Linked DNA regions of Homo sapiens. The protein of the gene in region 1 interacts with the protein of each later gene in a pairwise test. Each region holds a gene or a part of one and is shown on either strand. Other genes may lie near its edges.

Evidence for each region.
Region 2: the proteins of RARG (region 1) and MTMR6 interact in a two-hybrid assay, tested with the Homo sapiens proteins (one large-scale study listed by BioGRID and IntAct).
Region 3: the proteins of RARG (region 1) and ACY3 interact in a two-hybrid assay, tested with the Homo sapiens proteins (one large-scale study listed by BioGRID and IntAct).

The regions. Positions count from the first base shown.
Region 1 is NC_000012.12:53,212,512-53,215,238, reverse strand, and holds part of RARG (retinoic acid receptor gamma), read left to right. Parts: intron 1-632; coding exon 633-793; intron 794-1,003; coding exon 1,004-1,180; intron 1,181-1,538; coding exon 1,539-1,743; intron 1,744-1,995; coding exon 1,996-2,154; intron 2,155-2,727.
Region 2 is NC_000013.11:25,252,925-25,256,581, reverse strand, and holds part of MTMR6 (phosphatidylinositol-3,5-bisphosphate 3-phosphatase MTMR6), read left to right. Parts: intron 1-1,509; coding exon of another isoform or gene 1,510-1,560; exon of another isoform or gene 1,561-2,133; intron 2,134-2,147; coding exon 2,148-2,197; intron 2,198-2,617; coding exon 2,618-2,818; intron 2,819-3,657. UniProt on the Homo sapiens protein: Lipid phosphatase that specifically dephosphorylates the D-3 position of phosphatidylinositol 3-phosphate and phosphatidylinositol 3,5-bisphosphate, generating phosphatidylinositol and phosphatidylinositol 5-phosphate.
Region 3 is NC_000011.10:67,641,951-67,644,945, forward strand, and holds the end of ACY3 (N-acyl-aromatic-L-amino acid amidohydrolase (carboxylate-forming)), read right to left. Parts: intron 2,920-2,995; coding exon 2,810-2,919; intron 990-2,809; coding exon 774-989; 3' UTR 605-773; downstream 1-604. UniProt on the Homo sapiens protein: Plays an important role in deacetylating mercapturic acids in kidney proximal tubules. Also acts on N-acetyl-aromatic amino acids.

The DNA.
Region 1 (2,727 bases):
TGGCCCTCTTTCCTCTGGCCACTCCCACTTCCCTGACCTCTGAGACTTGGCCTGCCCTGGGGTGCTGCCTTCTCCCAGGCCAGTCTTATTTGATTAGCTCCATTCAACCAGGAGGCCCCACCATTTCCCATTCTCCCTCTCAGGGAGCTTGACTCTTCCTCTGAATGGGTGAATAAGTAGGGTCTCACATTCCCCCTGTTTCATGGGGGAAATGAAGCCAGTGGGCTTGCCAGTCCCTTTCCCTCCCCTGGACTGAGCCAGAGATGGATATGGGGTGGCTCCTCCTCTCCACCCCCCCCTCGCCCCCATTGTGCTGCCAAGGCTATAAGTGGATATCCTGCCGCCTGCATATCCTGCCCCCCCTCCCCCAGCTCCTGCAGGGTGACAGGAAGGACAGGATGGAGCCGAATGGCCTGGGGAAGGAGCAGGGGCTGCAGGCCCTGGGTGGGGCTGGGGAGAACCAGCCTGGGAATAGGAGCTATTATAGGTGATAGGGAAACTGAGGCAGTAATTACAGTGCCAGAGAATAGATATTCATGATAAGGACTGAGCATATTAAATTAGGGTGAGAGAGGACACCCAAAGGGAGGCTCTGAGGGTCCTGACCCTCTCCTTGCGCCTCCACCCACAAGCTGTGCGAAATGACCGGAACAAGAAGAAGAAAGAGGTGAAGGAAGAAGGGTCACCTGACAGCTATGAGCTGAGCCCTCAGTTAGAAGAGCTCATCACCAAGGTCAGCAAAGCCCATCAGGAGACTTTCCCCTCGCTCTGCCAGCTGGGCAAGTATACCACGGTGAGGAATGGGCAGAGCCCAGTGAGGGCAGGGCACTCTTCACTTTGGGGAATGGGGCTGGGTTGTGTTGGAGGCTATCATCGACTGGTGCTGAGGACAAGGAGGGCATCAGAATGCAGAGGAGAGAGCTTGGGATATTGGTAGAGAGAAGACAGCCCCCAGAGGTGGGCCTTAGCTTGCCTTCCAACCTTCTACCCCTCCCCTCTGCAGAACTCCAGTGCAGACCACCGCGTGCAGCTGGATCTGGGGCTGTGGGACAAGTTCAGTGAGCTGGCTACCAAGTGCATCATCAAGATCGTGGAGTTTGCCAAGCGGTTGCCTGGCTTTACAGGGCTCAGCATTGCTGACCAGATCACTCTGCTCAAAGCTGCCTGCCTAGATATCCTGGTAAGTTAGGCCCTGTGGGTCCTGCCACAGCCCGACCCACATATGGGACCCTCAACAATTCCTTGATCCATGCAAAGATTTCCTTACCCTGCACCCCCTGCCACACATGTGGGACTCCTCAGCTCTCTTTTCGTCTTAGCCTCTGCCCCTATGACCTGATCCTAGACTTTTGGATGCCCTGTCTCCTCCTGACTTCCCGGGACTACCCCTGCCAAGCCTCAGATCCTCCACCTCTGCCTTCTCCATGCCTGCTTCAGGTTGCACTCACTGGGGACCTAACCTCCTCACTTTCCACTCATTCCCTCTTTTCCCCATCCCCCAGAAACAGCACTAACCCTCCTCCACCCCCCACCTCCAGATGCTGCGTATCTGCACAAGGTACACCCCAGAGCAGGACACCATGACCTTCTCCGACGGGCTGACCCTGAACCGGACCCAGATGCACAATGCCGGCTTCGGGCCCCTCACAGACCTTGTCTTTGCCTTTGCTGGGCAGCTCCTGCCCCTGGAGATGGATGACACCGAGACAGGGCTGCTCAGCGCCATCTGCCTCATCTGCGGAGGTGCGGGGGCGCCCCCTGGCGTCTGCTCAGTGCTCAGTCTCCTTTCCCACCACTCCATGCGGAATCTGTCTGGGAGGGGGCGTGGAGGACCCAGTGGTCTCTTCTGCTGGTAATTCTTGCACCTGGCCCCATCCAGAGAGTTCTGAAACCCTGTACAGGCTTCCCAAAACGCCGGTTGGTGATCAGCCATCTGTCACTGTGTCTTCCCCATCTCTTCCTTCCCCTCTCACTCCAGTATACTTGTCCCCATAGACCGCATGGACCTGGAGGAGCCCGAAAAAGTGGACAAGCTGCAGGAGCCACTGCTGGAAGCCCTGAGGCTGTACGCCCGGCGCCGGCGGCCCAGCCAGCCCTACATGTTCCCAAGGATGCTAATGAAAATCACCGACCTCCGGGGCATCAGCACTAAGGGTGAGTCATGAGTGGGTGTCCCCTCTCTGTCTTCCCAGGGCTGTTGGTCTCCCAGGTCGGACAGGAGGACACACAGAGACAAGAACAGAGTAGTTGAGAACCAGGCAATCTACACTGGAATCCTAGCTCTGCCACATAGTAGTGGGAGACTTTGGGCAAATTGCTTCTAAACCAGTACTGTCCAGTAGAACTTTCTGCAATGATGGGAATACAATAGTCATTAGCCACATGTGGCTATTAAGCATCTGAAATGTGACTACTGCAACTGCAGAATTGAATTTTTAATTCAGCACAATTCCAAGTATGTGTGTGTGTGTGTGTGTGTGTGTGTGTGTGTGTGTGTGTGTATATATATATTTAGAGACAAAGTCTTGGGCAAATTGCTTTACTTTTTTAATCTTGTTTGTAAACTGGGCTATTCTTCACGTACCTTGTAACGCTGTCTTGAGGACTAAATTAGTTAATATACAATGTAAAGCCAGGCACCATGGTGCACATCTGTAGTTCCAGCTACTCAGGAGGCTGAGGCAGAAAGATCAGTTGAGGCCAGAAGTTGGAAGCTGCAGTGAGCTA
Region 2 (3,657 bases), on another chromosome or scaffold:
GTGAGCAGATTAACTTATGTTTTCAAAATTTACATCTTAACTCATGGTAAATTAAATGAAGAGATGTTAGAAAATTTTCATTAGTCTTGAATTATTAAATACAGTGCCATCTTAAAGCAAAGGAAGATTTAAAATCACCAGTCCCTTTTCAGCACCGCTATTTTTTGCTGCTAACATACCGACTCTGGGACAGGCCAAGCGGGAGTGCTGCTAATAAGAAAATAATGCTCAGCTTACCTTGAGAGTGTACGATAAGGAATATTTTCTTTGCCATGTTTGGCTTTAATTATTTGTTAGACATCCAAATGAAATCATGTAATAAATGGGGATGATGTGAGAGCTTCCCAGGCAATAGGAACAGTGTAAATCAAAGCATAACCTCTTTGGGTGACTGCAGGTAATGTGTGATGGATGGAGTTCAGAGTGAGTATTAGAATAGGGGGCTTGGAGGCAGAGGAATAGAGTGGGGTCAGGGCCTGAGAAAGAGAAGGCTGGAATGGGGCTTTCCCCTCTTTGGATAATGGGAGCTATTAAAGAGTTTTAAACAAGCAAACAGTAACTTGATTAGATGTGCTTTTTAAAAAGGTGGCTTGGTATCTTGAAGGCCAAAGGGAGTGGGAATGGAGGCTAGGAGGCGAGTGTAGACACTATTATGATAACTTATGAGACAAAAGTTTTTAATTTTACCAAACTAAAATAGTAACACACAAGTGAAGGGGGAGGTGATGGGTTCCAGGGATGTTTAGAGAGTAGAGTCAGTGGCTGGGCGCAGTGGCTCACGCCTGTAATCCCAGCACTTTGGGAGGCCAAGGCGGGTGGATCATGAGGTCAGGAATTCGAGACCAGCCTGGCCAATATGGTGAAACCCTGTCTCTGCTAAAAATACAAAAATTAGCCGGGCATGGTGATGTGTACCTATAATCCCAGCTACTCAGGAGGCTGAGGCAGAAGAATTACTTGAACCCAGGAGGCGGAGGTTGCAGTGAGCCAAGATTGCGCCACTGCACTCCAGCCTGGGCAACAGAGTGAGACCCTGTCTCAAAAAAAAAAGAAAGTAGAGTCAGGAAGAATTGATCATGGATTGGATGTGGGATAGAAGAGAGGAGTCTTCCTCTGGGATGATTTCCAAGTTTCTGAATTAGGTGCCAGGATGGATGGTGCTGCTCTCTGGCTCTTCACTGAGATAAGCCAAAGAATACATTTAGTGAGAAAGATATTGAGTTATGCTTTAAACATGGTTTTGTAGAAGAATGGCAGAGAGACCAGAATAAAATCTGTGGCTCCAGCCACAAGGTCACACAAAGTGGTGAAGCTGGGATTGGAGCCTGTGCCTGAGCTCCAGCGACTACATCCTCAGCCACATCAGTGTATAGCCTTCTGCGGAAAGCAGAGGCTTGAGACAAAATCAGAGAAGCTAAAACCAGCAGTTTTGACACTATGAAAATAATGTGCTTGGTGACTGTATAGTTAAGTGATAAAGTGTACTAAATACTACAAATATGTGTTTAGATTAGACTGAAAAAGTTAGAAATCTGTTTTTACAGTGGAGTGGGTAAGTAGAGAAGCTGTGGCAAGGAAAACATAAAGTCAGTCCATTCAAGAGGATAGATGTTAACACTTGGATCTGAACATGAACTCAAGTAAGATGATTTGATTAAAATAATTGGTCTTTTTATCATTAGTTTTTTTTTCTTAAAAAAAGTAGTATATAAATAATATAAAAAATGTACAAGTAAGCCAAAAGTTTTAAAATATCCACCTCAGTCTACCACCTAGAGTTATCCTTTGTTAGCAGTTTTGGTTTACATTTTTCTAGCCTTTTTCCTATGATATATCATCTTCATACATACAAAAACTTAAATGTAATACTGCTTTATAACATGTACTTTTCACTTAAAATGTAATAAATTCAACGGAAATAATTTAAGTCACGAAACTACTCTATTTCTTTTTATGCATTTTTATTCTTCTTTAACCCCACCTCGAATCAAGGTTTTGGCATTCTTTTGCCTGTGGTTTTTTGTGCTGTTTTGTTTATAAGTTAAAAGTGTACAGTAAATACTGTTTTTAAACTAATAAGATTTAATCCAGCCTAAACAAAATAATTGAAAGTAGTCAGAAAGTGAATTTTACTTTTTCTCATTAAGGTTTTAATAGAAAAGGATTGGATCTCTTTTGGACATAAATTTTCAGAGAGGTGAGTCACAGTTACACAGTCATATATTTTATAAAATTAGTAAACCAAGTTTAGAATGCCAAAATGTTTCTGTTCCTTATGAACTCACATGCGTGATGGGAGGTAAGAGTGTCATGGTTTTTACTGTATTTTACGTAAAGACATTTAATTTTTTTCTGTAATTTCTTTCAATTCTAGTACGCTTGTTAATTTTCATGACTATTTATTACCTTCCTTTTGGGCTGCATTTTATTTAGAGATGGTAACAGATCCTTTAAAGCTGTGGTTTAAAAACTCATAAATGGTTTCAATAAAAATTCTAGTTTTGCATGCTAATGTAACAGTGCTTTAGGAATATTTTTGTATGTTTAAGATTAACAATACCTGAACAATGGACCTTTCAGAGGTGTTTTTAAAAGCTTATACTTTCTGTGGGGTTAGGTGTGGCCAGTTGGATGGTGACCCAAAGGAAGTCTCACCAGTGTTTACTCAGTTCTTGGAATGTGTGTGGCATTTGACCGAACAGTTTCCACAAGCCTTTGAATTCAGTGAAGCATTTCTTCTTCAGATCCATGAGCATATTCATTCATGCCAGTTTGGAAACTTCCTTGGAAATTGTCAGAAGGAAAGAGAAGAGCTCAAGTAAGATGATTCAATTAAAAGAGTCTCCTTTTCCCCCTACTTAGCCGAGGTCTAACAAAAATCATGTTTGAAACTTAATAAAATATCTTGACAATTTGAAAGTTTATTGTAAAGATTTTATTTTTTGTATTTCTAAAGCTGAGTACCCTTCTAATATTCCCCCACCTTTCAGCTAATAGTAAAAGCACATTATAAAATGTGTTTTGAAGTGTAGCATACATACAGAAAAGTACATAGAGCGTTAAGTGTGAAGCTCAGTAAATCTTACCAAACTCACACACCTATGTAACCAGCACCCAGAATATGAAATGTTGTCAACACCCTGGAAAGTCTCCTCATGCTTCTTTTCGGTCTGCATTTATATATTTTAGAACAGAGAAATCCTTATGCTGTTTAATTTCCCAGAATGTATCAGTCGCTAGTTTTAAAGTGTAAAATATTTTAAACTGTTGGTTTGTTTTAAGATAGGATGGAGCCTTATAGCTCTCCCCACATTTCTAAACAGACAGTTCTTTGGGGAAAATAAATCTAGCTATGTTGGCTGCAGCGTGTCCGTCCTTGAGTAGGGTCTCAGAAAAGCCCTGAGACACTACTTGACCCTAGTTCATGTTATTTCCTGACCAGTCTTCGGGGATAGGGGTTTTTGCCTAAATTTTGCTGTAAGGAAGATCTCTGGAGTAGGTCTTAGAGGTCCTATGTATATTGTTTTAGGTTGGGCTTCTGAGTTTGGATTTCTTTATTGCCTCTTACAGTAGGCAATAAAGAGCACTTAACAGACTTTTGAACATCCAAGGGACATATTAAGGAAGCTAAATCTGGTAGTATTTGAAGATAGCCAC
Region 3 (2,995 bases), on another chromosome or scaffold:
CTGCAGTTGGACAGGCTGTCCTGCATGGGGACAGCCTTGTCCTGCTGTGGCCCTTCCCCCAGCCCTGACTCCCTGCTTGAGCCACTATGGGCACCGGGCTCATTACACACTTAAAAATGCACATCTGGCCACATAGAGATCCCCTTAGAACGCCCAAGGAACTGAGGCTCTTGGAAACACGTGTGTGTGGGAAACGCACAGACACGCACGCCAAAGAGCATCCAGGGCAGGCGCCATGCACGGACAAACACACATGTGTGCACAGACATGGGCCTGTCTCTGCGCTCCCCACACTCACTGTCTGGCCCCAGGACTATAGGAGGGTTGGGGGGTCCCCCTCTGGGTTGTAGCCTCCTCTGGAAGCCCCTCCGCTGGATCCAGAGCAATCCTTCTTCAGGTTCTCCTCCCACACTCTGGAATCCTCCCCCAGGCATGGATGGACAGCTGTGGGCACAGAGGCAGCCACCACTGGCCCCAAGACACTTGCAGGTCCAAGGCTGCACTGGCCAGACCTCCCCCAGATCCTGTGGTCAACCTCCCTTCCTCCATCCACTTCCCCAGCCAGAGAGGAGCCGTGCAGGACAGAGGACACAAACCATGGACCTCTGGACATCTTCCATTTTATAGAAAGGGAAATTGAGGCCAGGGGTTGGGGAGGCCTGGCAAGGAACATGGTGCATGGTAGGTGGCAGAAGGGACCTCTGTGCTCAGAGCTGTGCCTCAGGACCCATCGTTCAGATGGGAAGACTGAGGTTGGGGAGGTGTGTCTTGGGTTAGGAAGCTGGGCTCGGGGCAGGGGTCAGCGCGGGCATGGCAGGCACGGTGAATGTGAACTTCTCAGTCTGGACAAAGGCAACGCCCTTCTCATAGTAGGCAGCCTCGTTAATGAACACGGGGTACACCGTGGACTCTCCCTCATAGAGCAGGTCCTCCCCACTGAACATCTGGAAGATGGGAGCACCAGGCTGCAGTGGCTGGAAGTCTCGGTCCTGGGAGGAGAGCCAAAGGCCAAGATTGCTGGGGCCACCTCTGCCCTGGCCCCAGAGGGGGGTGACCCCAGCTTGACACCCAAAAGATGCCCCTCATTCATGGCTTTTCCCACCCATGCTTCACTTCCTTAATCCATATGACAGCAGGTCTGGTGAGATACCAGTCTGCTCTGTGTCTAGAAATGAAGACACAGGTCACCTTGGGGTGGCATGTGCCCATGTGGAAGTGGACCCTCATGGATACGGGCACAGGTATTGAAGCTGGAGTTCAAATTCTTGCTAGCTGTGTAACTGTGAGCAAGTCACTTAACCTCTGTTTCTCAGCTTTCTTGTCTGTAAAATAAGGATTACAATATCTCCTCCTATCATTCTGAAGTTTAGACTAAACAGGTTAATAGTGCTTACAGCAGTGTCTGGCACACGGTAAGTACAATATGATTCTTTATTAAATAAATTTTGGCTGGGCGCAGTGGCTCACGCCTGTAATCCCAGCACTTTGGGAGGCCAAGGCGGGTGGATCATGAGGTCAGGAGTTCAAGACCAGCCTGGCCAACATGGTGAAATTTCATCTCTACTAAAAATACAAAAATTAGCCAGGTGTGGTGGTGAGCGCCTGTAATCCCAGCTATTCGGGAGGCTGAGGCAGGAGAATCGCTTGAACTCAGGAGGCGGAGGTTGCAGTAAGCCAATATTATGCCACTGCACTCCAGCCTGGGCAACAGAGCGAGACTCTGTCTCAAATAAATAAATAAATAAATTTTAAGCCTGGGCACAGTGGCTCATAATCTCAGTGGCCTGTAATCTCAGCACTTTGGGAGGCTGAGGTGGGCAGATCACTTGAGGTCAGGAGTTCGAGACCAGCCTGGCCAACGTGGTGAAACCCTGTCTGTACTAAAAAGACAAAAATTGGCTGGGTGTGGTGGTGAGTGCCTATAATCCCAGCTACTGGGGAGGCTGAGTCAGGAGAATCGCTTGAACCCAGGAGGCAGATGTCACAGTGAGTTGAGATCGCACCACTGCACTCTAGCCTGGGCAATGAAGCAAGATTCTGTCTCAAAAAATAATAATAAAAAATAAAATAAATTTTAAAATTGTAGGAGGAGCCACCCAAATTGACTGTTATGACTGAACGTCTGCAAGGTAGCTGGGCACGGCTGGATTAAGACTGTCTAGCCCTAAACATGGACGGGATGGTGCTGCCTCCATTTGTAAGAAGGTAACTCCTCAAAATGAAACTTCAGGGCACAAAAGGCCACAAGATTGCACCAGACCCTATTCAACAATGACCCCCTGTGGCAGCAAGCAGAGCAGCAGCCAGTACGTTCTTCTCAGGCACCCAAGGGAAAGGTGTGGAAGCAGGATTGCCTAATCCTGGAACATTCAGGAAGGGAAGGCCTGCAGAGAGACATACTGCCAACATGCATGGGGATGCTCGAGGAACCAATTGAAAATCAGAAGAGAGTTTTGTATTTGCACCTCCAAGCAGGTGAATTGAGTCATGCCTGCTCCATGTCCCCTCCCTCTGCCTTTTACAGCCAGGGTAGGGTTGTCTCCATCATGCCCTCCACAGGAGCTATGGGGATCACTGTGGCCTCTTGTGCTAGGCCTGAGTGTGGGGTTCCAGGGAAGGCAGCAGGGCCAGGGGAAGTGGGATGGCGGAGCCCAGCCTCCCATCCTGCTCCTCAACCCGAGATGCTGGTGAGCTCGTGGGAGGCTTGGCTGCACCCCCTGGGGCTCAGTTTTCCTTGACAATCCTCCTCCCCAAGGCTGTGGCCCCAGAAATCACCCCCCACCACACACACACACACACACACACACACCTGCAGCTGAGGATGCACAGTGCCTGCCAGGTGCCCGGCCTCGGTGCGGGGGAAGTCCACGACGCCCACGGGTCTATAGGCTTCCATCTCAAAGGCAGGAAAGGCCGTACCTGTGTGGGAGGCTGGGTGTGTGAGCCCATCCCTCCCTCCAGGCTAGGGGACAGACTGGGCCGTGGGGGTACGTCA